7 linked regions of the Homo sapiens genome follow. The protein of the gene in region 7 purifies or fractionates together with the protein of the main gene of each other region. This does not show direct contact. Each region holds a gene or a part of one and is shown on either strand. Other genes may lie near its edges. The genes, in order: S1PR5, FZD6, GPAA1, LMBR1, ATP2A1, COX18 and VNN2.

Region 1 (4,181 bases), on a different chromosome or scaffold from region 7:
ACGCAGTGAGTGCCACGAAGACGCCTCCCTCCCGTGCGAACCAGAGCGCGGGGGACAGTTTCAGCGTGAGCGGCCCCGACAGTAGGATGTTGGCGGCGTAGGCGGCGCCTGCCAGCAGATCCGACAACGTGAGGCTGCCCAGGAGCAGGAACATGGGAGCGTGGAAGCGCGGGTGGCGTCCGAGCACCAACAACACGGCTAGATTCTCTAGCACGATGAAGGCGCACACCGCCAGGCACACCACGGCGTCGGCGCGCAGGCCGGCACCCGGCTGGTAGCGCGCACCGCGGAGCTTGCCGGTGTAGTTGTAATGCAGGACGATGACCTCGCTCACCGGCGCCGGCCGCAGCAGCCCCGACTCCATGGGCCGCGCGCCCCAAGGCTGTTGGAGAGGCAAGATACGGTGTCAGGCCGCGGTCCCCGTAAGCACGCTCGCAGCAGCCGGCTAAGTCGTGGGAAAGGGGCCCTACCCACTGACCATCACCCCCTATACATGGTGTCCAAGGGGGAGTTCAGGATGGAGGGATAGAGTCCGTGGAGACAGACATACACACAAATAATATCACGAGGGAACAAGGTGACATAGTCCCAAAAAAAGGGACATTAATAACACATGAATGGCTGGGCGCGGTGGTTCACACATGGCTGGGCGCGGTGGCTCAGGCCTGTAATCCCCGCCTGTAATCCCCCCAGGCTCAGGCCTGAGGCAGTGGCTCAGGCCTGGGAGGCCAAGGGGGGCAGATCACGAGGTCAGGAGATCGAGACCATCCTGGCTAACACGGTGAACCCCTCCGTCTCTGCTAAAAACACAAAAAATTAGCCAGGCATGGTGGCACGTGCCTGTAGTCCCAGCTACTCCAGAGGCTGAGGCAGAAGAATCATTTGAACCCAGGAGGCGGAGGTTGCAGTGAGCCGAGATCGCATCACTGCACTCCAACCTAGGTGGCAGAGCGAGACTCTGTCTCAAAACACCCCCCCTCCCCACCAAACACACACACGGCTGGGTGTGGTGGCTCACTCCTGTAATTCCAGCACTTTGGGAGGCTGAGGCGGGAGGATTGTTTGAGGCCCAGGAGTTCGAGATTAGCCTGGACAACATAGGAGAACCCCGTTTCTACAAAAATTAGCCGGGACGTGTTGGTGTATGCCTATAGTCCAAGCTACTCAGTGGAGTCCCAGCTGAGGTGAGAGGATCACTTGAGCCCGCGGGGTCAAGGCTGCAGTCAGTGAGCATTGATTGTGCCACTGTACTCCAGCCAGGACAACAGAGCAAGACTTTGTCTCAAACACACACACACAAACACACAAGCAGGGAGTTCCAGAGACGTAACAGTAAACACACAGAACGCACACAAACGCAACACACACAGAAAGAGACACACAAATACAGCGACACACTACAAGGGCAAAACACACAGTCACACACTATCAGGGAAACTAAAAAATACATCATACAGGAACAGAGTGACGCAGGCAGAAAAACACAGCGACCAAAATTCAGTCACACGAATACAGGGTCTCCCACCCAGTGGCACAGGCCACAATTTCACAACCTCCACTCACACTAGCCTGGGGCCCAGTGCACCACACTCCACACTCTTGTCTCACTGCATACAAAGCTTTTTCCTGCCAAAACCCCCTCATCCACCCAAAACCCCATGAGAAAGTTGCTCCTTGGCCAGGCACAGTGGCTTTCGCCTGTAATCCCAGCACTTTGGGAGGCCGAGGTGGGAGTATCACTTGAGCCCAGGAGTTCGACACCAGCTTGGGCAACATACTAAGACTTCATCTCTACAAAAAAATTTAAAAATTAGCCAGGTGTGGTGTTATGCCCCTATAGTCCCAGCTACTCAAGAGACTGAGGCGGGAGGATCACTTGAGCCTGGGAGGCCGAGGCTGCAGTGAGCCATGATCGCACCCCTGCTCTCCAGCCTGGGTGACAAGAGAGAAACTCCGTCTCAAAAAAAAAAAAAAAAAAAAAAGTTGATCCTATTCACTCATTTTACTAAGGCAGAGCCTGAGGACAGGAGAGAGAATCCACAAGAGGCAAACAGACTCTTACAGAGGGGCACACATGTCATTAAACTGTAATAACACTCCTCACCTGCCTCTGTGACCTTATTAATCCCCACTTCCTTTAGTCCTAATTTACAGATGAGAAAACTGAAGCTCAAAAGAAATGCTTCGTATCGAAGCAGGCGCAAAGGTTTCCATGCTCCCACACAAACATCCATGCACAAATAGTCCCCATGCAAGTCCAGATGAGAAAGCCAAGGCCTGGGGAGGGGAATGGATCTCTTTTGCACAAGGCAGGGATGCGGACATCCCAGAGAGCTTCAGTCACACACAGAGAATCAAGGCAGGCAAACATAGACAGGAAGTCGCTGGCTCACCCATGCTGGAGGTGGGGAGCCCAAATACAGGGAGACAGGGTTACACATGCTCTGAGGGGGAGGCCAACCCCATCCGCCCAGCTTGCCCGGCAGCAGGACTGAAGTATGGAAACTTGCAGTGGCCCGGCCAGGAGGGGGTGGCCAGGGGATTCCAGCCACCTTCACCCCGTATCCCAGGTCCTGCACCCAGCTGGGGAGCCCCCAGCTTCCCCCTCCCCAGAGGCCTCCAGGAAAAGTTCGGAGAACTCCCTGCAAGGAGTGGTGCGCCTTTTTAGACCGGGAAAGTGGCCGCCAGGGCGACCCCCTCCGGGTCAGGCCCAGCCCAGCGCCCCCAAAGGTCCAGTGCAGTCCACTCACTCTGCGCCCTGGTCGTGCGCCACCCGCAGTCGCGCTGCCTTGAACCGAGTGAGCGGACGCCGCTCCGGGGGCGGGGCTGGAGCTGGCAGGCGAGGGGGCGGGCCAGCGACGCAAAGGGCCGGCGGTCGCCAGCAGTTGCCCCCTCCCCTTGGGTCCCGGGCACTCAGCCCATGGCTGCCAGCCTGTGCCACTCGCCGCGGCACCGGAGCGCGCCCCGGCGGCGACTGGCACAGGCGAGCCCTCAGCTGCCCCCTCCGGGCCTGGGCTGTCCTCCCAGGGACGCTCCATCGCGGTGGGAGGACTCGGAGAGGCGGGAAAGGGAGGGTTCTGCAGCAGGGCGGTCGCAGCCTGAGCCTCTTCTCCCCAGCGGAGGGGTCTCCTCTGTCCTGGGTGTCCGGGCACTGCGCCCTCCCATTGCCCACCCACCTGTGAACTGAGCTTCCTGGGCTGCACCCCAAGGACGCCCCGTCGATGATTCGGAGGGGTCTTCAGTGGGTTGCTTAGCAGGAGTCTTCAGTGGGGGCCACCTTAGCCTGAGTCCTCTCCCACCAGCAGATAGGTTCCCGCTGCTCCCGGGCACAGGCCCCTCCCAATTTCCCGCTCCCGCCCCCGGCTCAGGGCGAGTGGGGGTGGGGCGGGCCCGGGCAGGATTGTGATGGGAACTTGCCGCTCCTCAGATAAGGAGGGTCTCTCCTGTCCCACCCCCTGGATTCCGTGTTCCCCCGACCGATTCTCTCCCACCCTTATCGCTGACGACAAAGTGATTTACTCATTAATGGTGTTTCTGGGCTGTGTCCTTAGCAGACAGTAAACCCCAGCAATGTAAGAATTTCTTTTTTTTTTTTTTTTTTGAGACAAGATCTTGCTCTGTGGCCCAGAGTGGAGTGCAGTGGCAACATCATAAGTCACTGCAGTCTCGACCTCCGCGGCTCAAGCCATCCTCCCATCTCAGCCGGCTGAACGTAGCTGCTGGGACTCCAGTCGCTTGCAACCATGCCCAGATAATGAATGAGTGTCTCCCTCACTTCCTCTGTATCTCTCTCAGGAGGATCTCAGAGTCTCTCGCCTGCGTGTCTCTTTGTCTCTGCGTGTCTCTTTGCCTCTGCGTGTCTCTTTGTTGCTGTCTGTGATGCTCTCCCACGCCTCTCCCAGGCCACTGCTCCTCCAACGACCAGTCCCGCTGGCCCCGAAACGCCCCCACCCCGACTTCCCAGGAACTTCCAGACGGTCCCAGCTCTTCCACCCTCAGATTCAGGAAGGGAGGCTGGGTCCCGCTGCTGCGACCTTCTCCAGGACCGTGCCCTTTGCCCCTGATGCTTCAGGCCCTGCTGGCCGCGGGTGGGGTGAGGGCGCCCCAGGAGAGATGAGCCAGAGGCTGAGAATAAGTGTGGATCCGGGATACCCTCGTGGGAGGAAACTCAGGGGGCACTC
Region 2 (3,500 bases), on a different chromosome or scaffold from region 7:
AATTAGGAATAATCTACAATCAATATTCTTGTGCACGACTCTCTGTGTAAGAGTTTCTATGGGAGGGGATTTCCTAGGATGCAGGGTTAAGCATCTGCCATTTTACTATATGTTACTCAATTGTTCTTGAAAATGATTATGTATCTACCAGAAGTGTGTAAGTTCCACATAGGTTCTATAGTTTCTTCAGCCTAAAAATAAAACAAAAAGCTAACCAGTTTCTTTCCCCAATTTATTATATGAGGTCTCACTGTATCAGTAGAATAAATTAGCAGCCTCCACTGTCTAGAGAATAGGAAAAAAAAATTAATCAAGACTAATGTGGAAAAGGTCAGTGAATGGATACATTCATTCATAAGTTAATTGTGCTTAAAATCTTACTTTCTCCACATGAACTCTAATTGCAAATGATCAAGTCAGTCAGTATTCATCAAGTTTATTCACTATCACGGAAAGGTCCAGATAGAATATTTCTTTTAAATATATGCCTGTATATGCCTGAGATTCTTTTTTTTTTTTTTTTTTAATGGAGACTGGGTGTCACTATGTTACCCAGGCTGGTCTTGATTTCCTGGACTCAAGCAATCCTCTTAAATAGCTGAGAATACAGCTGTGTACCACCATGCCTGGCTTATGCTGAGATTTTTATATCCAAAAAAGACCATTCACCTTGCCAAAATATTACATTAACAGTGGTCTGAAGGTATACGGAACAAGTATAGTCAGCATTTTGATCTTAACGCAGTAGAATATTTCATGTTATAAAAACATCTGTTAAGCATGTTTGTAACGTTTTCACTTTGAAATGCACTTATTAATTATAAAATCTGTCATAGCATAGTGGCTGAGATATGGAAAGGCCTCTGATAAATCACAATAGGAAAGTGTGTTTTCATGAAAGCAAGGCAGCTATACCTTTGAGGAGAAAAAGTTAGACTATCATAATAAAGACAGGAAAATGAGTGTAAGGAAAGAAGTATAACAGAAAATTAGATTCCACAGACTCTCAGGTGGTATGGTGGACATGCACTGCTGTGGGGAAAGAGGGAGAAATGAAAAGAAGGAGCGTCATGGGTCAAACGAGTGGGATTCATCTATTGGCAAGCTACCCGAGGATGGCTGGAGCCGGAACTGAAAACAAAGTTCAGTTTACAAAACTCTTCACGTAGAAAAGAATGTGCCTGTGCTCTGATGAGCTGAGGAAACTACAGACCTCAAAGAATGAATGCACCTTTTTCTTCCAAGGCAAAGGCATTCTCCTGGGGAACCAAGAGCCTAATGCATGCCATAACCACACAGTTCTGCCGTTTCTCAAATAATAGATGCAGCCTTCATGTTTTTACCACAGTTATGTTAAATCTTTCATTATGCTAGAAATCTTTCAATGAGCTAGATTTTGTGTTTTAATCAGAGGTTCCCCTCTTTCTTTGTGTGTGTTTTCAAAGTAAATAAGATGCCACAAAAGCCTGAAGGTCTTATTTATAGAAATGAAAAAATATTCTCCAGTATAGGCCATACTAGAATTATTTTTATGTGCAGCTGACCCAACTAACATTGTATAAAAGGATGTTAATGGGTTTGCTTTATATTAATGGGACATGGTTTAATATAGGGCTTAAATAATTTTAAAAAATGAATTCTACTTCCCAATTCAATGTATCAAGCATTCTCAAACACGAATAAATTTGATTTAGATTAATTCCGTTTCTCCAAAAATCAAGTTACGAAGACCAAAACTCCAACAGAGTTAGAAATTAAGCATAGGTGCCAGTGTAAATTTTTTTAAGTTATAACCTCCCCTGCTTTGAAACTGAGTAGGCAATCTCATAATGAAAGAGCAAGTATTTTCTCCACAGGCCTCACCGTCTTCTCATATAAATATAACTTATTTACTGAATCTTCTCCTTCCCTCCACTAAAATGTAAGGTCCATGATGGCAGGAATTTTTGCCTGTTGTAACTCTAGTGCCTAGAACAGTCCTGGCACACAGTAAGAGTACAAGAAATATGAGTTGAATGAATCATCAGTTTTGTCTCCTTTCCTTTTGCTGTCATCATCCTTGGTGACTTGACCAAGAATAAGCTATCCACACTCTGGCTTCTCGGCTCTTTAGCCTCCTCATCTCCAATGACTATCCCTAACCCGCAGTGGCCACCTGTAATCAAAGTCACACAAGGAACCCTGCCACAACCTGCAAGTACACACTATCTCCAAAAATCAACTCAAGCATCCTGCCCTTCGTCTGCAAGCTCCTATCCTTGCAATTCATTTTTTAAAAAATCCTCATTATGCCTTTAAAAAAAAAACCTCATTGGGATAGATCTCCTCCAGCTTGTCTCCATACATTAGTTCATTTCTCTCTTCATTTCGCTCCCCATCTATTTAGACTTTCATAGGCTATTGTTTCAGTAACACCCTTCTCATTATCCTTCATTTTTTAGTGCACCTTTATCTTTGCACTGAATCCATCTGACAAAACCCCAACCACAGATGAGCACAACTATCTGCCTTCTCTGTGCTTAGCCCCAAGCATCCCACCACAGCTGGAGAAGTTCTCAACAGGCCAGATGAGATCCACACATTCAGGATCGCCTGATTTACCTAAAATGTTACGAAGCCTCTCTAATTGACTCATTCTCCCATGCTCCATGATGACCACTTCTCTCGAACACATATCCTTCTTTCCCAGACTCACAACAGAGGACCTCCTTGACTCTTACTATGTCACAATGGAAATAGAAACCATCAGAAAGAAATTATTGCAACAACTCTTACCAAACACACAAACCTACTATATCCACAGCCATCCTATCCTTTCCTACTGTTACAACAGATGTTCCTCCCATCCATGGCCAAAATGTCATCTATGCTTGGGATCCTATCTCCTTCTTAGAAAACTACTATTGATGACCTCTTCTACCCCATATATGCTTGCCTCTTCCTTTTTCCTAGTAGTTCTTAAAATAGTTCTTTCCCATTAAACTCATAAACTTTCCTCTTTTATAGCCAGCTTCCCTAAGAACTCTGTTTCTGGCTTTACTTCCTCTTCACTCCTTCACCTACTGTGATCTGTCCTTTGCCCCAGTCACTCTAGTGAAATAGCATAAGGTAATGTTCTTTTTGACTGGCAGCACCTGACATGTCCTCTGCCTTGAATGCTTTTTTCCTTCAGGACACACATTTACTATTTTCCCTATTTGTTTCAGTTATAACCACATGACTGACATCTTGCCAACAGGAATGCATGTGGAAAAGGTATAACACTTCCCATCTGAGGCACTCAAGAAAAGGCGTGAGTTCTCTACCTTCTCTCTCCCATCCACCTGGCTGACAGAGTTGGAGGATGGAAGTGTCCTGGATTCCTAACAGAAACTGCCAGAGTGCTGCCCAACCCTCAGGAGACTGACACAGGTGCCATGCTCTACACAGAAGCTCACAGGATTGTGCTACCCATTCCTGTCTTAAAATATTAAAGACCTCACTGCTTTCAGCATAAAAAT
Region 3 (4,273 bases), on a different chromosome or scaffold from region 7:
GCAGTGTCAGCACCACAGCCTCAGCCTCTGCCACTGGGAAGTGCTGGGTGGCAACGTGTTGGCCCAGCACTGGCAGGACATAGAGGGCCAGTCCCATGGCCTGTGAGATCAGCAGAGGTGCCACGAGCGAGGCCAGCCCCACACCCTGCAGGGCACACAGGCTCTTGGAGATGGACCCTGGGGCCAGGGGATCCCCAAAGACCACCACCATCCCACCAGCTGAGGCTAAGTTGCAACACTAAACACCAGTCAGACCCCAGAAGCCCATTCCAACAACAGAAGGGGGTGCCATCACCTGTGATGGGGGAAGGGGTACACTGGGGCCAGGGGCACCCCCGGGCTCCTCAAGGCCCATTCCAGCCTCATGCAGCTGCATCCACAGTTCCAGAGCGTAGCCCAATCAAGGACCCCAACAAGAGGTGTAACGGGATCTGCCCAGAGGGGGACCCAGGGCTCACCCCCGTACCCCACCCCCCATCAGGATGGAAGACTCTCCCCAGCCTAGAGTTGAGGAGACTGGAGGCTGGTCACAGGTAGATGGCAAGGGGCAGAGGATATCTTGAGACCAAGGACCAGGAGCAAGAAGCCGACAGCGGGCATGTAGAGGCCGATGGAGACGAAGCGGGAGAGGCCGGGGAGCAAGTAGAGGAAGAAGGACTGGTGCAGGCGCTCCAGGAGGTGGTTGAGCTTGCGGAACATGCCCTCCAAAGCCCTGTCAGGTGTGGGGCAGGTTCACGGCTGGCCAGAGCCACCAGGCCATCCCCCACTCCGCTCCAGCTAGACCCCATCCTGGGCATGGAAAGGGGGGACCAGAGACTACTTACTTGCCCACTGCCACCAGGTCATACTTGTACTGGCGGAAGCTATTGATGCCACGCAGGGTTAGGGCCTCCACACGGTAGCGCAGGAAGAGGCCATGGGAGCCGTGGGGGCGGCCGGAGGCCTGCCGCAGAACCATGAGCAGCAGTGTCTGCAGGCCCTGCAGCGGTCCATCCAATGATGTCCAGTCCTCGGGCTGCAGCTTTAGAGGTGCAGGACAGGATGAGACAGCCCCTCCCACAGACCCTGTGCCCTTCAGCCCTCAGGCAGGCAGGCAGCCCCACCTTGCCCTGAAGCGTGCACAACAGGCCCCCTTTCTGGCAGAAGGTCTGGAAGAGATTGAGCAGGTCAAGGTTGGGCAGCTGCCCGTTAAGCCCCTCCACGGCCACATCGAGGCTGGTGACCACATCACTGCTCAGCTCCAGGGCCACGGCTGCCTGAATGGCCCCAGCTCGGCCCTGCAGGGGAGACGACTGCATGCCTGTAGGAGCAAGTGAATGAGTGCTAATGGAGGACGTGGTGAGGACAGTGACCCTGAGAGGGGGACCAGGGCAGGCAGGACAAGAGAACCTACCAGTGACATTGACATCGTGGTAGGCTTCAAGCCAAGCCTCAGTGCCCAGAAGGTCATGTTCTGTTACCAGGAAGACGATATCTTTGGCCCAATAAATCTGCCCTGGAGGCCAGAAGCAGGATCAGCAGGGTCTGGGGCACTGACCAAACCCCTCCACGGCCAGCAGCCCTGAGACTCACCCCGGAAGTGGGCAGCCAGTGCCAGCAGCAGCCCCACAGCCTGGCTGTTGGTAGAGTCAGAGCCACAGGGCACGGTGAGCACAAGCGACTCGGTGCTGGCAGCACGCGGGGCCCGCAGGATGCCGTACACGTTGGTGCCCGACACCATCTGTATGCAGCATCGGTGGGGGGAGCCTCAGTGTAACTTTGTGGTAGGGGGCTGAAGGGCCCCCCACAACTTTCCTAGCCCTCCAGTGCCCACCAGGGATTTCCCTCCCACTGAGCTTCCTGGCCCCATGACACCCCCGCAAGGTGATACCCAGCCCAGACCCCTCCCTCCAAGGTGCTTTCTGGGCCCAGGCACACCCCACTCCCCCAGTACATAGCGCTCGTGGGTCTCATCTGGGAAGGGCAGTTTCCGGGAGAAACTCTGCGTGTAGACCTCCAGCCCTACTGACCGCATCGTCCGTTCAAGCCAGGCCACTGGCAGAGCCCTGCAGACACGAAGGGAGCCTCTGAGCAGAGCTCCCCGGCCTTAGCCACCACTGCTCGCCCCATACGCCCTGCTCTGCCGCTCACCCCGACTTCTTGCGGTGGGCGGCGAAGTCCCGGGCAAAAGCCCGGGCACGGTCTCCGCCCGCAAACTGCTCCTCCACCATGGTGGAGCCCATGGCGTTCTCCGACATGTAAGTGCGCTGGGTCAGCGGCGGGAAAACCAGCGCCAAGAACCAGGCGATGCCCGCCACGTAGCTCAGCACGCTGTGAGAGAGGACGGAGGGGCACCGGAGCGTCAGCGGGTCCTCAGACGCCGACCCGAGGCCACAACCTCCGCACCCGGGGTCGATCGCGCGGGTCTGGGAGACCTAAACCCGGAGTCCTGCATCGGGACGCCGGACCCGAGCCCTAAGCCTGGGCCTGATACCCTCAGTGCTTCCAGAGGGCAGGAGCGGAAGGGCGCGAGCAGCCGGAGGGGCGCGAGCAGCTGGAGCGGCCCCGGCCCTCGATGGGGACCGCGCATGGGGCCGCCGGCGCGAGCCCAGGGCCCTCGGGTCCCCGCCTCCCCGGGCCCTGTCCTCACCACAACGGCGCGTTGAGGCGCAGCACTAGGCGGGCGAGCGCGCGCCGGCGAACCGGGTCCGACAGGAGGCCCATGGCGGGGCAGGGCGGCGCGGCTACGGACCCTCTCCCGCCTCCAACTACCGCCGCGGTGCCCACAGGCTGCTCCTGTCAGACCCGGGGACCCGCGCTCGCCCGCACTTCCGGTCCCAGAGACGCTCGCGACGGCGCGCATGTCCAGAGCAGAGGGCGCGCCCCTAACACTGTGTGCTGCCGGCGCGCAAGCGCAGAGCCGCGGCCGGCTGGAGGGTGGGCGGTGCCGGTGAGGCCGGCAGGACCTGAGCGGGTTTGGGAGTCCGCTAGGCGCTGCCCCCACTAGAGTCGGACTCGCAGTGCACCCCCCGGGAGGGAGGCAGGTAGCCCTACAGCCGGAGGACAGCAGAGATGCCCGACAGCAGGCCGAGCTGGTCGGGGGCTGCGAGATAGCGCCGGCTGGAAGGCCCGCAGGAGTCAGAGGTGATGAGCCGGGCAGGTGGGTGGAAAGCCGGCGGCGGTCAGAGAATGGATGCCAAGCGAGACTGCCAATGACTCAGGACGTCCCAGTGGAGTCACAGCGTGAGCCCAGCACCGAGGTTTTCAGAGTCAGATGACTGCAGAGAAGATGCTGATGGCACTACTGGCCAAAACGGGCTTCACTGGAGCTGGGGTGTGTGCATTATAAAGTGGGGGATCATACTGTCACTGTCCGGGCCAGGAGATCCGTGGAATATTAGGGGAGAAGCAGTCCCAGGGTCCAGACTGCAGGGACTGGTAGTCGGGGCTCGGTGGGCCAGAGGTGAATGAAGGGGGAGTTTGCTCAAGAGGGTGCACTTTGGGAAGGTGAGGTGGGTGGATCCTTTGAGATCAGCCTGGACAACGAAATGAGACCCAGTCTGTACACACAAAAAAATTCCTTTTAAATTAGCCAGGTGAGTGGGGCATGCCTGTAGTCTCAGCTCAGGAGGCTAAAGTGGGAGGATCACTTGAGCCTGGGAGATCCAGACTGCAGTGAGCCGTGATCACACCACTGCACTCCAGCCTGAGCACAGAGCAAGACCATGTCTCAACAAACAAAATAGTGGTGGGCAGAGAGAAGGGTCAAAGCTGAAGACTCCATGTGAGAACAAGTTTTTTTTTGTTTTTTTTTTGAGACAGAGTCTTGCTCTGTCACCCAGGCTGGAGTGCAGTGGTGTAATCTTGGCTCACTGCAACCTTCAACTCCTGGTTCAAGTGATTCTCCTGCCCCAGCCTCCCTAGTAGCTGGGATTACAGGTGCCTGCCACCACACTAATTTTTGTGTCTTTAATAGAGATGGGGTTTTACCACATTGGCCAGGCTGGTCTCGAACTCCTGACCTCAAGTGATCCATGAGAACAGGTAATTTTTGTACTTTTATTTTTTTTTAGATGGAGTCTTGCTCTGTCGCCCAGGCTGGAGTGCAGTGGCACAATCTCGGCTCACTGCAACCTCCGCCTCCCAGGTTCAAGAGATTCTCCTGTCTCAGCCTCCTGAGTAGCTTGGATTACAGGCATGTGCCACCACTCCCAGCTAATTTTGTATTTTTAGTAGAGACGGGGTTTCGCCATGTTGGCCAGGCTGGTCTCAAACTCCTGACCTGAAGCAATCC
Region 4 (4,165 bases), on a different chromosome or scaffold from region 7:
GAAAGGCATCCACAGAGTGGGAAAGAAATATGTGCAGTATATATTTCTGACAAAGAAATCATATCCACCTGTATAACAATATAATACAAGTTATTCTGTAAAGACCTTGCAAATCAATATTAAAAAGATAAACTTAATTTTTAAATGGGGAAAAAAATTTGACCCTTCACAAGATTTCCAAATGGCTAATAAACAAACAGGTGCTCAAATTCATTAGTTATCAGGAAAATGCAAATTAAAATTATTTGTATGATGAACACTATAACACACTTGCTAGAATGACTAAAATTAAAAAGGACAGAAAATATCAAGTATTGATAAAGATGAGTAACAACCACACCTCTGAGACTGTCAGTACTGGCGGAAGTGTACACTGGTACAACCACTTTGGAAAATTGTTTTAAAGTATCTACTAAAGATGAACAAATGCACACTCTTTAACCTAGGGATTCCATTCCTAGGGCTATCCCCAACAGAAATGCACAAACATGTCCACCAAAAGCTATGTACAAAAAGTTCATAGCCAGCCCGGCGTGGTGGCTCATGCCTGTAATCCCAGCACTTTGGGAGGCCAAGGCAGGTGGATCACCTGAGGTCAGGAGTTCAAGGCCAGCCTGGCCAGCATGGAGAAACCCCGTCTCTAATAAAAATAGAAAAATTAGCTGGGTGTGGTGGTGTGTGCCTGTAATCCCAGCTATTCAGGAGGCTGAGGTAGGAGAATCACTTGAATCCCGGAGGCAGAGGTTGCAGTGAGCCGAGATTGTGCCACTGCACTCCAGCCTGGGAGACAGAGCGAGACTCCATCACAAAAAAAAAAAAAAAAAAAAAATATATATATATATATATATATACACACACACACACACACACACACACATATATACATACACATATATATACACATATATATATTCATAGCCAAAACCTAGAAACTACTGAAGTGCCCATCAACAGTAAAATGAAAAATAAATTGTGCTATAGTCACACAACTACTGCACCGAGAATGAATTATAACCACATACAACATGGAGAAATTTCACAAACATTGTACAAGAAACTGGACACAGAAGAGTATATACGGTAAGATTCCATTTACATAAAGTTCAAAACTAAGCAAAAACTAATCTATGATATTAGAAGCCAGGGCAACGTTTACCCTTGGTGGAGGAGAAAGTAATTGGAAGAGGGAAAGGAATCAGTCTCTGGGATCCTAGTAAAATTGTGTTTATTTATTTATTTTTTTATAATGGTAGAGATGGGGATTCACTATGTTGCCCAGGCTGACCAGTCTCAAACTCCTGGTGGATTCAGGAGTACACAGGCGTGTTTAGTATGAAATGATCTGAAGGGTACATGTATGATTACATGAACTTATCTCTGTGTATTTTAGCTTCAATTATAAAAATTACAACTAAATGTGTACCAAATTCCACTAACTCAAATTCCACCAGCTCAGACTTTATATGTCCTCTTTATTCAAAGTATGACTTCCAAAGTGATTCTCAATTTTCAAGATCAGTGAGTACACAAATTAGATAATTCTAAAGCAGAATTTTTTCACCTCAAACCAAGTGTGACTGAATCGTAGACAACTTAGGAGAGGCGTAAATATAAACATAAAAAATTGACATATTTTACAACAGTTATGAAAACACAGATAAACCCAATTACAATACATTCTAGAGCATCATGAAAAGATAAAAACATCAAAGTAGACTTTCCAAGGTCAAGTCCGCTTCCTGACTCCTGCCAACAGCACACATGGAACATGGGCCAAAAAAGAAGCTGCTTCCCTAAGAAGTTGCTTCCATAGCAAAATGGACTTTTGCTGAGGTCCTCACTCCCAAAAATAACCAATATTCTCATCCCAAACGGTAAGGTTTCGAACTCAACCCACGTGGGGGCTGGGGGAGATGAAAGAGGGATGGAAACGTGAGGCGCCAGGAGGGCAGGAGGTGTTGACCGGGACAAGGTAACCGGCCGGGTCCAAACGCGAGAGGCGGGCGGGCTCCGCGCAGCCCGGCCCTTCCCGGACCCGCCGGGCCCACCCAGGCTCTCCGGGACGCCTGCGCATCCACCTGCCTACCTGGCCTGGCGGCGGAGCGCGGGGGCGCGCACTGGCGGGGCCGCCGTCCACACCCCGAGGCGCGAGCCGCACACCCGCCCAGAGAGGAAGCCCCTGGGGTCCCAGAGCGCGGCGCGCACCGCAGCCCTCCCCGCGGGAAGGGAAGGGCAGCACCGAGGCCGCGGGGCGGGGGCGGGGTCGGGGCTCGAACGGAGGGAGCGCGAGGGGGCAGGGGAGGCAAGAGCGGAGCGGGGGGGCAGGCAGAGGAAGCGAAGGGGAGGGGAGGGGAGAGGAGAGGTGGGGAGGGAAGGGGAGGGGAGGGGAGAGGAGGGGTGGGGAGGGAGAGCGGCAGAGGCCGGGGCGGGAGGCGCGAGGCGAGGCCCGGAGGTGAGGGGTCCGGGGACCGGGGGCCCGGGGGCGGGGACGGAGGGCCCGGGCGGGCACGCGGGACTGTCAGGGCTGCCTCGGTCCCCACGCACCGTGGACTCCCGCACTTGGCTGTGGAAGTGCTGCTCCCGCGCCGACACCTCGTCCTGCCCTTCCATCCTCCTTCATGCCCGCCGCCGCGCCGCCCGCGTCCGCGTGCTCCGCCACACCATCGTCCGCCCGCCGCAGGGGCTCGGACAGCCGCGCCGGGGACCGGAGCCGGCACGGGCCCGCGAGCCGTGTTGGAACAGGTACCGCGACCACGACACCGGCCGTCGCCTCAGCAGCCTCAGACGAGCAGCTCTGACTAAGGGAGGGCGGGCGCCGCGCAGTCGGGGGCGGGGCGGGGGCGGGGCAGGGAGGGGAGGGGGCGGTGCAGGCATACGTCAGACGAAAGGCGCCGATGCGTCAGAAAAGCGCGCCTCGCGGTCTTCCGAGCTGCTGGGCCGGGAGGCGCTGAGGGGGCGGGGCCTTGAGGTCGCGGGGCGGGGCTCCGCCCACGCTCTCAGGGGCTACCCCAGTTAAGGAGGCGCTGTCCTGGCGTCGGATGGGGACGGGGAACGCGGCGAGGGCGCTGCGACCTCTGCCCACCTGGCCCGGCCGCAGTCTCGGAGTTCCTGTTCCTCACAGGAGCTAATTATTTATGACAGCTGCATGGTTCCCCTCCCCCAGTTACTCAGTGCTTGGCACTCGGCACCCCTTACTCAGCACTCAGTACCGCACTCGGCCTCAGGGGACCTGGGCAGAGGGAAGCAGGGAGTCTCCCGCGGAAACTCTTGCTCTGCCAAAGTAGGTTGAAAGGTCGGAAATCGGTGGTTTGGGGCCGGGCTTTGGGCGGAAACCCAGCTTCTCTGGGTCTGAGAAGGGTCTTGGGCTGCCCCACCTGGAAAACGCAGATAACCGAGCTCGCTAGACCCTTGCCAAGTCCTTCCGGTAGCTCGGTCACTAGGGTCAGTTTTATGACTCTCAGTGGACCCTAAACAGCACGTAATATATGTATTTTTCACCGCCAAATATATCAAACACAATAATTCACCCTCCGTTCCCTATTATCTTTCTTTTTGTTATAAAATTTGAATTTAAGGGAATGTTTATAATTTTACCTTAGGATTTATTTGGCTACGAGGAAGTCATTTAAATTGCTAGTGGCTGCGATTTTTGTTTTTGGCATCTTTGAGAATTCTTAGGAAGTGTGAAAATCTACAAATTGCTTTCAAATGTCATTTAGTTTTTGTTTTTGTTTTTTTTTTTTTTGAGACAGAGTTTCACTCTTGTCGCCCAGGCTGGAGTGCAATGGCGATCTCTGCTCACAACAACCTCTGCCTCTTGGGTTCAAGTGATTCTCCTGCCTCAGCCTCCCGAGTAGCTGGGATTACAGGCGCCCGCCACCACGCCCAGCTAATTTTTGTATTTTTAGTAGAGACGGGGTTTCACCACGTTGGCCAAGCTGTTCTTGAACTCCTGACCTCAGGTGATCCGCCCACCTCGTCCTCCCAAAGTGCTGGGATTACAGGCCTGAGCCACCGCGCCCGGCCGTTGTTTAGATTTTTATGAATCTAAATTTAACAGTCAATGAAGTTGTTGTAAAGTTCTTCAAAGACAAATATGTGGTAATTTAAACCTTGCCGTTTCTCTTCACAATTTTGAGTAGAGAAAATTTTTTCACAACTCAAA
Region 5 (3,500 bases), on a different chromosome or scaffold from region 7:
ACAGTGAGTTATGATTGTGCTACCACACTCCAGCCTGGGCAACAAGAGTGAGACTCTGTCTCTATTAAACAAACAAACAATAATGGTCCGCAAAGATACCAGATCCTAATCCCTGGAGCCTGTAAATGTTACCTTACTTGGAAAAGGGGTCTTTGGGCCAGGCGTGGTGGCTCACACCTGTAACCCCAGCACTTTGGGAGGCCGAGGCGGGTGGATTGCTTGAGCCCAGGAGTTCGAGACCAGCCTGGCCAACATGGTGAAACCCCATCTCTACTGAAAACACAAAAATTAGCCAGGCATGGTGGCGTGCACCTGTAATCCCAGCTACTTGGGAGGCAGAGGCAGAAGAATCACTTGAACCCAGGAGGCAGAGGTTGCACTGAGCAAGGCCGGGTGCGGTGGCTCACGCCTGTAATCCCAGCACTTTGGGAGGCCAAGGCGGGCAGATCAGGAGGTCAGGAGATCGAGACCATCCTGGCTAACACGGTGAAACCCCGTATCTACTAAAAATATAAAAAAATTAGCCAGGCATGGCGGCGTGCACCTGTAGTCCCAGCTGCTAGGGAGGCTGAGGCAGGAGAATGGCGTGAACCCGCGAGGCGGAGCTTGCAGTGAGCCGAGATCACGCCACTGCACTCCAGCCTGGGTGACAGAGCAAGACTCCATCTCAAAAAACAAAAAAGAAAAAAAGAAAAGAAAAGAAAAGAAAAGGGGTCTTTGCAGATGGGATTAGCAAATGGGAGGAGAAAAGAAAGGCTTTCATACCTTCGGGGATGGCAGCCACAGCCAAGGCCACGGCAATCTTAAAGTAGTAGATGGCCCCGCGGAACCAGGAGCCCCCATGGACGGGGTCGTTGAAGTGGCCAATGTTGATAAGCCAGACAGCCACACAGATGAGGGAGATGACCTTGGAGAGCTGCTCCCCAAACTCATCCAGCTTCTGCTGCAAGGGGGTCTTGTCCTGTTCTGTGGCAGCCATTTGGTCTCGGATCTTCCCAATCTCGGTGCCCACACCAGTGGTGGCCACGATGCCCAAGGCCTTGCCGGCTGCAATGTTGGTGCCCTGGGAAGGGAAAGAGGAGGCAGGGAATCAGGCAAGAGGTGACCCTCATGCCGCATCTCCCCACGCCATCTCTTCTCACACGCCATGTTTCTCTCCAACCCGGGCACCTGGCTTGACTGAGTGTGTGATGGCTGGTCCCGGATTGCTCACCGAGAAAAGCATGTTCTTCTTGTCCTGGTTGACAGCTCGGGGGTCAGGAACGGGCTCCGTGTGTTTGATGACAGATACAGACTCGCCTGTGGAGAAGGGGCCAAGGGGTTTTCGGATGACATCATGTCCTTCTCCCAGGCTTCCCGTGCCTAACTCTCTCCCTGCTCAGCAGGACAGCTCCTGGTAAGGACCAAGTAGCCATCCTGGGGGATGTCTGGACTCTGGAAGAAGCCACTGAAGGCAGCTAGGAAGTCCATTGCTCCTTTTTTTTTTTTTTTTTTTGAGACAGAGTTGCAGTCTTGTCACCCAGGCTAGAGTGCAGTGTCAAGATCTCAGCTCACTGCAACCTCCCGGGTTCAGGCAATACTCCTGCCTCAGCCTCCCAAGTAGCTGGGATTACAGGCACATGCTGTCACACCTGGCTAATTTTTTTTTTTTTTTTGTATTTTTAGTAGAGACGGGGTCTCACCATGTTGGCCAGGCTGGTCTCGAACTCCTGACCTCAAGTGATCCGCCCACCTCAGCCTCCCAAAGTGCTGGGATTACAGGCCACCGTGCCCAGCCAGAAGTCCACGGCTCTTAAAAAGACCTCGACCCAAGCCCCAGCTTGACCACTAACAAGCTGTGTTTGATCACCTAACTTCCATGTGCTCCTCTGTAAAATGGGGACAAGGACATGTACACTGCAAAACAATGTCTTGGGTGAAAATCAAATAAGTGGACATATTTGGAGCCACACTTTTAACTGTCAAGCATGTTTCTGGGAGGAAGGGGGACCTACACTTACGACCATGCCTCCCTCACCCTAAGAGCAGGGGCTCAGCAGCAAGCCTGGGCCAGCCTAGCCCTTGCCCCCTGGGACCATGGGGAATGTTTTCTGCCTCTTCTTCGCTTCTCCCTGCCAGTGCGGAAACAGAAGCAGCTATGGTGGTTTTACAGAGACAGGGTCTTGCTCTGTTGCCCAGGCTGGAACGCAGTGGTGTGATCATAGCTCATTGCAGCCTCAAACTCTTGGGTTCAAGTGATCCTCCCACCTCAGCCTCCCAAACAACTGGGACTACAGGTGTGCAGTACAATGCCCAGCTAATTTTTAAAAAAATTTTATAGAGATGGGGTCTTGCTCTGTTGTCCATGCTGGACTGCCGTGGTAATCATAGCTCACTGTGGCCTCAAGCTTCTGGGCTTAGGCAATCCTCCCACCTCAGCCTCCCAAGTAGCTGGGACTACAGGTGCACACCACCACACCCAGCTAGTTAAAAAAATTTTTTTTTTATAGAGATGGGGTCTCGCTGTGTTGCCGAGGCTGGTCTGAAACTCCTGACCTCAAGTAATTCTCCTGCCTCAGCCTCCCAAAGCACTGGGATTACAGGTATGAGCCACCACGCCCAGCCTAGCAGCCATGGTTTTCAGTGTATCTGAACCCCCTATCTTGTCCTAGAATCTCATGGCTCCTCCCTGGAGGATTTTTGAGGAGGCTGAAGGAGACAGGACAGTTCTCGAGGTGTCTGTGGCCCTATGTCCATGTGGAAGGGGTGGGCTGGTGGCTATCTAGAGAGTAGGCAACAACATCCAGCCTTCTCCCACTACCCGTCCCGTTTCAGGCTTGGGACAGAATGGAAACGTCAAGCAGGTCAGGTGCAGTGGGTGGCTCACACCTGTAATCCCAGCACTTTGGGAGGCTGAGGTGGGTGGATCACGAGGTCAGGAGTTCAAGACCAGCCTGGCCAAGACGGTAAAACCCTGTCTCTACTAAAAATACAAAAATTAGCCGGGTGTGATGGTGGACGTCTGTAATCCCAGCTACTCTGGAGGCTGAAGCAGGGAATTGCTTGAAGCCAGGAGGCAGAGGTTGCAGTGAGCTGAAATCGCGCCACTGCATTCCAGCCTGGGTGACAGAGCAAGACTCCATCTCAAAAAAAAAAGAAAATGTCAAGCAGTGCTGCCACTGCCACAGCCACTACTAGCGAGCCAGGGGGAGGCCCCAGTGCTGGGTTTTGTTTTGTTTTGTCTTTTTTTTTTTTTTTTGAGATGGGGTCTTGCTCTTGTTGCCCATGCTGGAGTGCAGTGACATGATCTTGGCTCACTGCAGCCTCAGCCTCCTGGGTTCATGCAGTTCTACTGTATCAGCCTCCTGAGTAGCTGGGACTACAGGTGCCTGCCACCACGCCTGGCTAATTTTTGTGTTTTTTGTATTTTTTGGTAGAGATGGGGTTTCACCATGTTGGCCAGGCTGGTCTCTAACTCCTGACCTCAGGTGATCCACCCACCTCGGCCTCCCAAAGTGCTG
Region 6 (3,500 bases), on a different chromosome or scaffold from region 7:
AATCACCTGAACCTGGGAGGTGGAGGTTGCAGTGAGTGGAGATCACACCACTGCACTCCAGCCTAGGAAACAGAGTGAGACTCTGTCTCAAGAAAAAAACAAACAAACAAACAAACAAAAAACACAATGCCTTGCACATAGTGTATGTTGAGTAAGAATAAGCTTTTAATAAGCTTTTATTTTTCTTTTAGAGGTGAGGTCTTTCTCTCTGTCGCCCAGGCTAGAGTACAGTGGTGGGATCACAACTCACTGCAGCCTCCATCTCTTGGGCTCAAACAATCCTCCTGACTCAGCTTCCAAGTAGCTGGAACTAGAGGCGCACGCCACCATGCCCCGCTATGAAAACACCTTTATTAGTCTTTAGATGACATAGAGGAAAAGACTAGGGGATTGACATTGATTCACTGTAACCTTGTGCTTATCACTTCCTTCTTTCTACCAAATATTCACTGAACACCAACCACAGGGGACTGTGCTAGTGCTCTTAGGGAAACATATTTGGACTACAGGTAGAGTCTTTCCTCAAGAAACTTTCACTTAAGACCTTATATTCTATCATCTCCATTTTCCTCATCTGAAAGAATAAGGGGTATATTAGATTTCACAAACAGGCATCAGAGGTCATGAGGTCTGGGAGATCTCTACTGAGGTAAATCATTTTTAAGATTTCTTCCAGTCCAGTCTGTTCTACTCAGAGTCTGAGAACAATTTATGAAATTATATGCACGCTTTCCCTAAACTGCTGAGTAAAGCAGCCTGTGATAAGGGTTAAGACATGACTGAGAGGGCTGGGCACAGTGGCTCATGCCTGTAATCCCAGCACTTTGGAAGGCCAAGGCGGGTGGATCACCTGAGGTCAGGAGTTCGAGACCAGCCTGGCAAACATGGTGAAACCCTGTCTCTACTAAAAATACAAAAATTAGCCGGGTGTGGTGGTGTGCGCCTATAATCCCAGCTACTCAGGAGGCAGAGGTTGCAGTGAGCCAAGACTGCGCCATTACACTCCGGCCTGGGCAACAAGAGCAAAACTCCATCTCAAAAAAAAAAGAAAAAAAAAGACATGACTGAGAGGTCACATTTTCTATGTGTATGTTTTTCCCATTTCATCTTATAAAGACATTCAATGACTTTTCTAAGGTCATAAAGCAAGAAAATAGCAGTCAGGGCCTGACTTGTGTTCTCCGCCTACAAATTCACATATTAAACACACACACGGAACATCACTCTATTTTAAGAATACAACCAGATTGACTGGGCATCTTTATTACTGTTTTTGCCAAAAGCAAGTCACAAAATTCTATGTATCAGAATCATATAATTTTGAAGCTGAAAGAGACTTGGAAGTATACTAGTGCTTTTACTTTAATTTCGAGAGTTCTGAGGCCCAGAGAGGTTAAGGGACAGGCCTAAGCCAATGCCTGACGTGGAACCAGGAACCAAGGGATCTCACTTCTAACTCAGAGCTATCTTCACCAACTCAAACAAAAACAGATTTGAAGTCAAAACAGCAGCAACAAAAATCCCCATAAATGGCAAACAAATTTCATTTAAAACTACTGACCTCCACTATTAACAAATTGATGACGCCAACAGAGATAGGCAGAATCCAAGTGGAGTCGGGTGCAGTGAGGTCAGGAAACCACAGAATTCCACCAGTAGCTAACTGTTCCTGAACAGAAAAACCTGCTAAAACAGTTTTATAAATAAAACAATAGAAGTCCTAAAAATAGCAGAGAAAAATATATAAGACATAAATAAGTAGTCTGACAATTCCAATAAGGTGTCCCTCACAGGAAAGATCTGCACTGGATTTATTCCAGTTTTTCACGCACAATATATATATTTTTTCTCAATACAAAATGTTCACAACACAACCAATCTGTTTACACTTAAGACTTTAAATTCTATACCCTTATAAGGAAGATAGTAAACATATCGTAATTATGAAAAGTATGCTTTTTTTTTTTTTTTTTTTTTTTTAGTACAAAGACAATGTTAGAGAACTTCTTTGGGAGAAGACATACAATAATTACCTTCTGAATGTGCTGCCCCCGTGCTTAAATTCCGGAGAGCAAAAGACATGAAGATCCACATTGGAAGCTGAATCCAAACCAACACAGTGGCTTTGAAAGGGTGGCAGTTATCTCGCACATATAGCTCTGAAATTAGCCTCCTCATATTCTTTAGATAAGTGAGCCTAGATTGAGGTTAGGGGGAAAAAAGGGGAAAGAGAAAATGTCATCTAAGAATCGTGCTTTATTTCCATAGCACAAATAGCGCCTGCTGTAGTTATTAGCTAAAGGATTTGTATAAGGGTTTCAGCTGTCACAGGCATGTTAAGGAGTTGCCTAAACAACAGGCAAATAAAGCCTTTTATCAAAACTTCTACAGTATGGTACACAAGTTACATAACAATCTGAAATTGTCAGACTACAGGCTTTGTCTCTGGTGGTCTTTGGCTGATTAGGCTTTAAAGGTAAATTTCACTACTGACATGGTATAACTACAATTAATATTGGAAATATGGAAGCTAAAAGCAAACTTTAATCAAATCTCTCCACTCCCGCCAAACTTAACCACTTCATCCCTGAATATACCTTTTGGAGCTATGTGGTTTTATACTGTGTATGCTCTTGGCCTGTCAAAATAGTCTCCATTTTTCAATCAACTATCTCACAAAGATATTTTTAATCTGTTTCTCTGTTAACCATATTAGTTACTACTGTTTTTTCCTGAAATTTTACTTTTTAGAATACAGTCTTCCTTCAGGTCCAAGAGAATAGGAGTTAAAAAACAAAAACTAAAGTATTCTTAGTTTAGGGGACAGTGTTCTATTTTATTCATCTTTAAATCTCCTGTATCATATATTTTGTACAGAGGAGGCATTCAATAGTTTTTCTGAATTTAGTCAAATTATAGTGTATAATAAGACAGTACACAAAGACATTCTAGGTCCTCCATAATTTCACATTTGCCTATTCTTCCAATTTTATCTCGTTACTCCTCTAGACACCTGCATATTCTGGTCTGAATGACTTTAGTTCATCCAACAAATCAGACTTCCGCATAGGCATGCCTTTGGAAGTACTGTATTATATCATCTGTGTGGAAAGCCCACTTTCCTGGCTGTCCATCTGACACACCGTCTTTTACCCTTCAAGACTCAATACTATTGAAAATGCAGGAAGCTGGCCAACACTGTGGCTTGCACTTGTAATTCCAGCTACTTGGGAGGCCAAAGTGGGAGGATTGCTTGAGGCCAGGAGTTTGAGATCAGCCTGCACAACACAGGGAGATTCTGTCTTGTTCAAAAAAACAAAAAAGAAAAGAAAAGAAAAGAAAATGCCAGAAGCCCTCAGATGTTTCCTCCTAGAAAGAAACATCTGTAAGGCTGTATCTGCACAACCATCCTGCCAGTACTGCTTAAGCAAGGTGCCACAAGTCTTATCTAGGCTGCGTTGATAACCCAGGCAAGCAGCTATTAATCTGGTTCTTTTGGC
Region 7 (2,268 bases):
AAATCAAATCCATAAGTAGGTTTATGACAATATGTAAAAACAAAAGATAAATGCTTCAATTGTGTTTTTTTATGTAAAAGTATTGAATTTAAAAATACTTTGGGAGATAAAAATCAGAAAATAAATCTGAAAATTCAAAATCAGTTCTTTAATTTTAAGAGTATCTGAATTAAATGATCAATAACAAATATACTAGTTTACTTCAAGTAGCATGGAATATGTGTATTTTGTAAAAAGTCAACCAAATGCTGAAAATAGTGTAACTTTTAACTGTCATGGTCTTTGTGTTATGAGATTTCTGCCTGTTAAATTACGCCATAGCCTTAAGGTGGGACAGCTGGGGCTATGAGTGCCCTGGGTCAGGTCTCCTTTGATATGAACTTGGAATAGCCATCAATTCTTCTAGCACTCAAAACTACGTTCACTGTAGAAATAAATGTCGACATTGCCTTTTGATTGGAAAGTAAATCTCCTGATAAACATTAGCACAGAAAACTAGGTGAATTCAAATAGTCTTTAATGTCAAAGGGAATTCAGTCATAAACCTCTAAATTCCCATCATTACTATTCTCTTCAAGGGCACAGCTATGTTTGCAATGGCCCTGAAACTCCTCACTCCCATACATACAAGTCCCCCATACACACAAAGTCTCAAGCAAATGAGGCTGGAGCTGGAGTTTGATCTTCATTTATCTGACCCAAACACCCAGGCTCTTTCCATTGTTCCACACTGCAACATTTCAGAGTAGCCAAAAAAATGGACAACATTATCATAATACTTAAAAAATAATTATTGATGAGAAAAAATATTTAGGACTCACTGGTCTATACTACTGAAATAGCCCTTCAAAGTTTCTTAGTAAACTTGGGAAGCCGATAAACACATTCAGCCAAGCATATGATGCAGAAGCTGAGTGATAAAGAGACGCCCTATAACATTACAATATTTTGCAAAGCTATGATCATTAATAATATGAATATTAGCAGGTAAGTTATTGCTGAATTGCTGGTCCCACATGAGCTGTAAAGTGAGTCCTTTGTGTACCACCTCCCAAAGAGTGACACTGTTAGTATAGGCCCAGATGATCCATTCTTGTTTACCAAACGCCCATCTTTCAGCACCTAAAGAAAAGGTGGGAAAAGTACAGTCAGCTTTCTTAACATAGAAGTTAAAAGCAAATTAATCATTTTGAAACCATCCTAGATATAATGTATAGTCAAATCATTTCTGATTTAGGAGGATGCAGCAAGTAGGCCAGGCAGGGGACAGCCATTTACTACATAATGAAGACTAGAGCAATTCAAGAGGGCCCAAGATTTTAGTTTCAACAATCAAATGTAACCATTAATGGAAAGTCAAAATCAGCAGCAGCAATTCATTGAGTTCGATTATGTGCAAGACAATCAGGAACCAGAGAGTTATACATCACATCCTTCCCTCAAGAAGCTAAAGAGCTAATGGTGAAATGGAGCGGATTCTAAACATAAAGAGAGAAATCAGTTTATCAGTGTATCAGAGAAGAGAACAGGTAAGTGCTAGGAGGTCTGAGAAAAAAAAAACTGAACTGGTCTGTTTCACGGAGTGGGACACAAGCTGCCAAAAACTCAAGCTGTTAGGAATTTCTTTCAAGGGCTGTATGGTGGAAGACATTGTGGGAAGTGGACATTGAACCAGCAAAGGCTCATTCTGAGACAGAAGTGTGTGTGACAGATCAAGGCAATGTGAGTTCTCATTCTAGATTGGTTAAAACCAGTGGTGTGCTGGAGCTAGTGGTGCACAGGCTCATGAGAACAGATTGTTAAATTTCCAGGAAATTGGACAGCTGGCTGTTAAACACAGCCATTCTTTTTTTCCCCCTTTTTTGAGATGGAGTCTCGCTCTGTCACCCAGGCTGGAGTGCAGTGGCATGATCTTGGCTCACTGCAACCTCCGCCTGCTGGGTTCAAGTGATTCTCCTGCCTCAAGCTCCCCAGTAGCTGGGATTACAGGGGCGTGCCACCAAGCCCAGCTAATTTTTGTATTTTTAGTAGAGACAGGGCTTCACCATGTTGCCCAGGCTGTTCTCGAACTCCTGGCCTCAAATGGTCCTCCCAACTCAGCCTCCCAAAGTGCTGGGATTACAGGCGTGAGCTATCAAACTCTGCCAACAGATCCATTCTTGAAGCTGGTGGGATCATGGCGGGAATATTGACACAATGAAAACTGGCAAATTCCATAAGTCAGGGCTTTTTGTTTTCTACCTCAGAGAAGGAATTGTTTAAAGTTAC

What was found.
Region 1: the proteins of VNN2 (region 7) and S1PR5 purify together in Homo sapiens (affinity purification with mass spectrometry; 2 studies listed by BioGRID and IntAct, with this or other methods). This does not show direct contact.
Region 2: the proteins of VNN2 (region 7) and FZD6 purify together in Homo sapiens (affinity purification with mass spectrometry; 2 studies listed by BioGRID and IntAct, with this or other methods). This does not show direct contact.
Region 3: the proteins of VNN2 (region 7) and GPAA1 purify together in Homo sapiens (affinity purification with mass spectrometry; 2 studies listed by BioGRID and IntAct, with this or other methods). This does not show direct contact.
Region 4: the proteins of VNN2 (region 7) and LMBR1 purify together in Homo sapiens (affinity purification with mass spectrometry; 2 studies listed by BioGRID and IntAct, with this or other methods). This does not show direct contact.
Region 5: the proteins of VNN2 (region 7) and ATP2A1 purify together in Homo sapiens (affinity purification with mass spectrometry; 2 studies listed by BioGRID and IntAct, with this or other methods). This does not show direct contact.
Region 6: the proteins of VNN2 (region 7) and COX18 purify together in Homo sapiens (affinity purification with mass spectrometry; 2 studies listed by BioGRID and IntAct, with this or other methods). This does not show direct contact.

Annotation. Positions count from the first base shown.
Region 1 is NC_000019.10:10,514,648-10,518,828, forward strand, and holds the start of S1PR5 (sphingosine 1-phosphate receptor 5), read right to left. Parts: upstream 2,801-4,181; 5' UTR 2,751-2,800; intron 383-2,750; 5' UTR 365-382; coding exon 1-364. UniProt on the Homo sapiens protein: Receptor for the lysosphingolipid sphingosine 1-phosphate (S1P). S1P is a bioactive lysophospholipid that elicits diverse physiological effect on most types of cells and tissues. Is coupled to both the G(i/0)alpha and G(12) subclass of heteromeric G-proteins.
Region 2 is NC_000008.11:103,319,398-103,322,897, reverse strand, and holds part of FZD6 (frizzled-6 isoform a precursor), read right to left. Parts: intron 1-3,500. UniProt on the Homo sapiens protein: Receptor for Wnt proteins.
Region 3 is NC_000008.11:144,081,161-144,085,433, reverse strand, and holds the start of GPAA1 (GPI-anchor transamidase component GPAA1), read right to left. Parts: upstream 2,801-4,273; 5' UTR 2,704-2,800; coding exon 2,630-2,703; intron 2,311-2,629; coding exon 2,131-2,310; intron 2,046-2,130; coding exon 1,934-2,045; intron 1,721-1,933; coding exon 1,573-1,720; intron 1,496-1,572; coding exon 1,394-1,495; intron 1,301-1,393; coding exon 1,104-1,300; intron 1,022-1,103; coding exon 825-1,021; intron 713-824; coding exon 559-712; intron 392-558; coding exon 296-391; intron 146-295; coding exon 1-145. UniProt on the Homo sapiens protein: Component of the glycosylphosphatidylinositol-anchor (GPI-anchor) transamidase (GPI-T) complex that catalyzes the formation of the linkage between a proprotein and a GPI-anchor and participates in GPI anchored protein biosynthesis. Binds GPI-anchor.
Region 4 is NC_000007.14:156,890,384-156,894,548, forward strand, and holds the start of LMBR1 (limb region 1 protein homolog), read right to left. Parts: upstream 2,801-4,165; 5' UTR 2,621-2,800; coding exon of another isoform or gene 2,611-2,620; coding exon 2,545-2,610; intron 1-2,544. UniProt on the Homo sapiens protein: Putative membrane receptor.
Region 5 is NC_000016.10:28,884,988-28,888,487, reverse strand, and holds part of ATP2A1 (sarcoplasmic/endoplasmic reticulum calcium ATPase 1), read right to left. Parts: intron 1,300-3,500; coding exon 1,214-1,299; intron 1,064-1,213; coding exon 766-1,063; intron 1-765. UniProt on the Homo sapiens protein: Key regulator of striated muscle performance by acting as the major Ca(2+) ATPase responsible for the reuptake of cytosolic Ca(2+) into the sarcoplasmic reticulum.
Region 6 is NC_000004.12:73,063,217-73,066,716, forward strand, and holds part of COX18 (cytochrome c oxidase assembly protein COX18, mitochondrial), read right to left. Parts: intron 2,198-3,500; coding exon 2,034-2,197; intron 1,687-2,033; coding exon 1,562-1,686; intron 1-1,561. UniProt on the Homo sapiens protein: Mitochondrial membrane insertase required for the translocation of the C-terminus of cytochrome c oxidase subunit II (MT-CO2/COX2) across the mitochondrial inner membrane.
Region 7 is NC_000006.12:132,743,370-132,745,637, forward strand, and holds the end of VNN2 (pantetheine hydrolase VNN2 isoform 1 precursor), read right to left. Parts: exon of another isoform or gene 2,063-2,268; intron 1,123-2,062; coding exon 931-1,122; 3' UTR 501-930; downstream 1-500. UniProt on the Homo sapiens protein: Amidohydrolase that hydrolyzes specifically one of the carboamide linkages in D-pantetheine thus recycling pantothenic acid (vitamin B5) and releasing cysteamine. Involved in the thymus homing of bone marrow cells.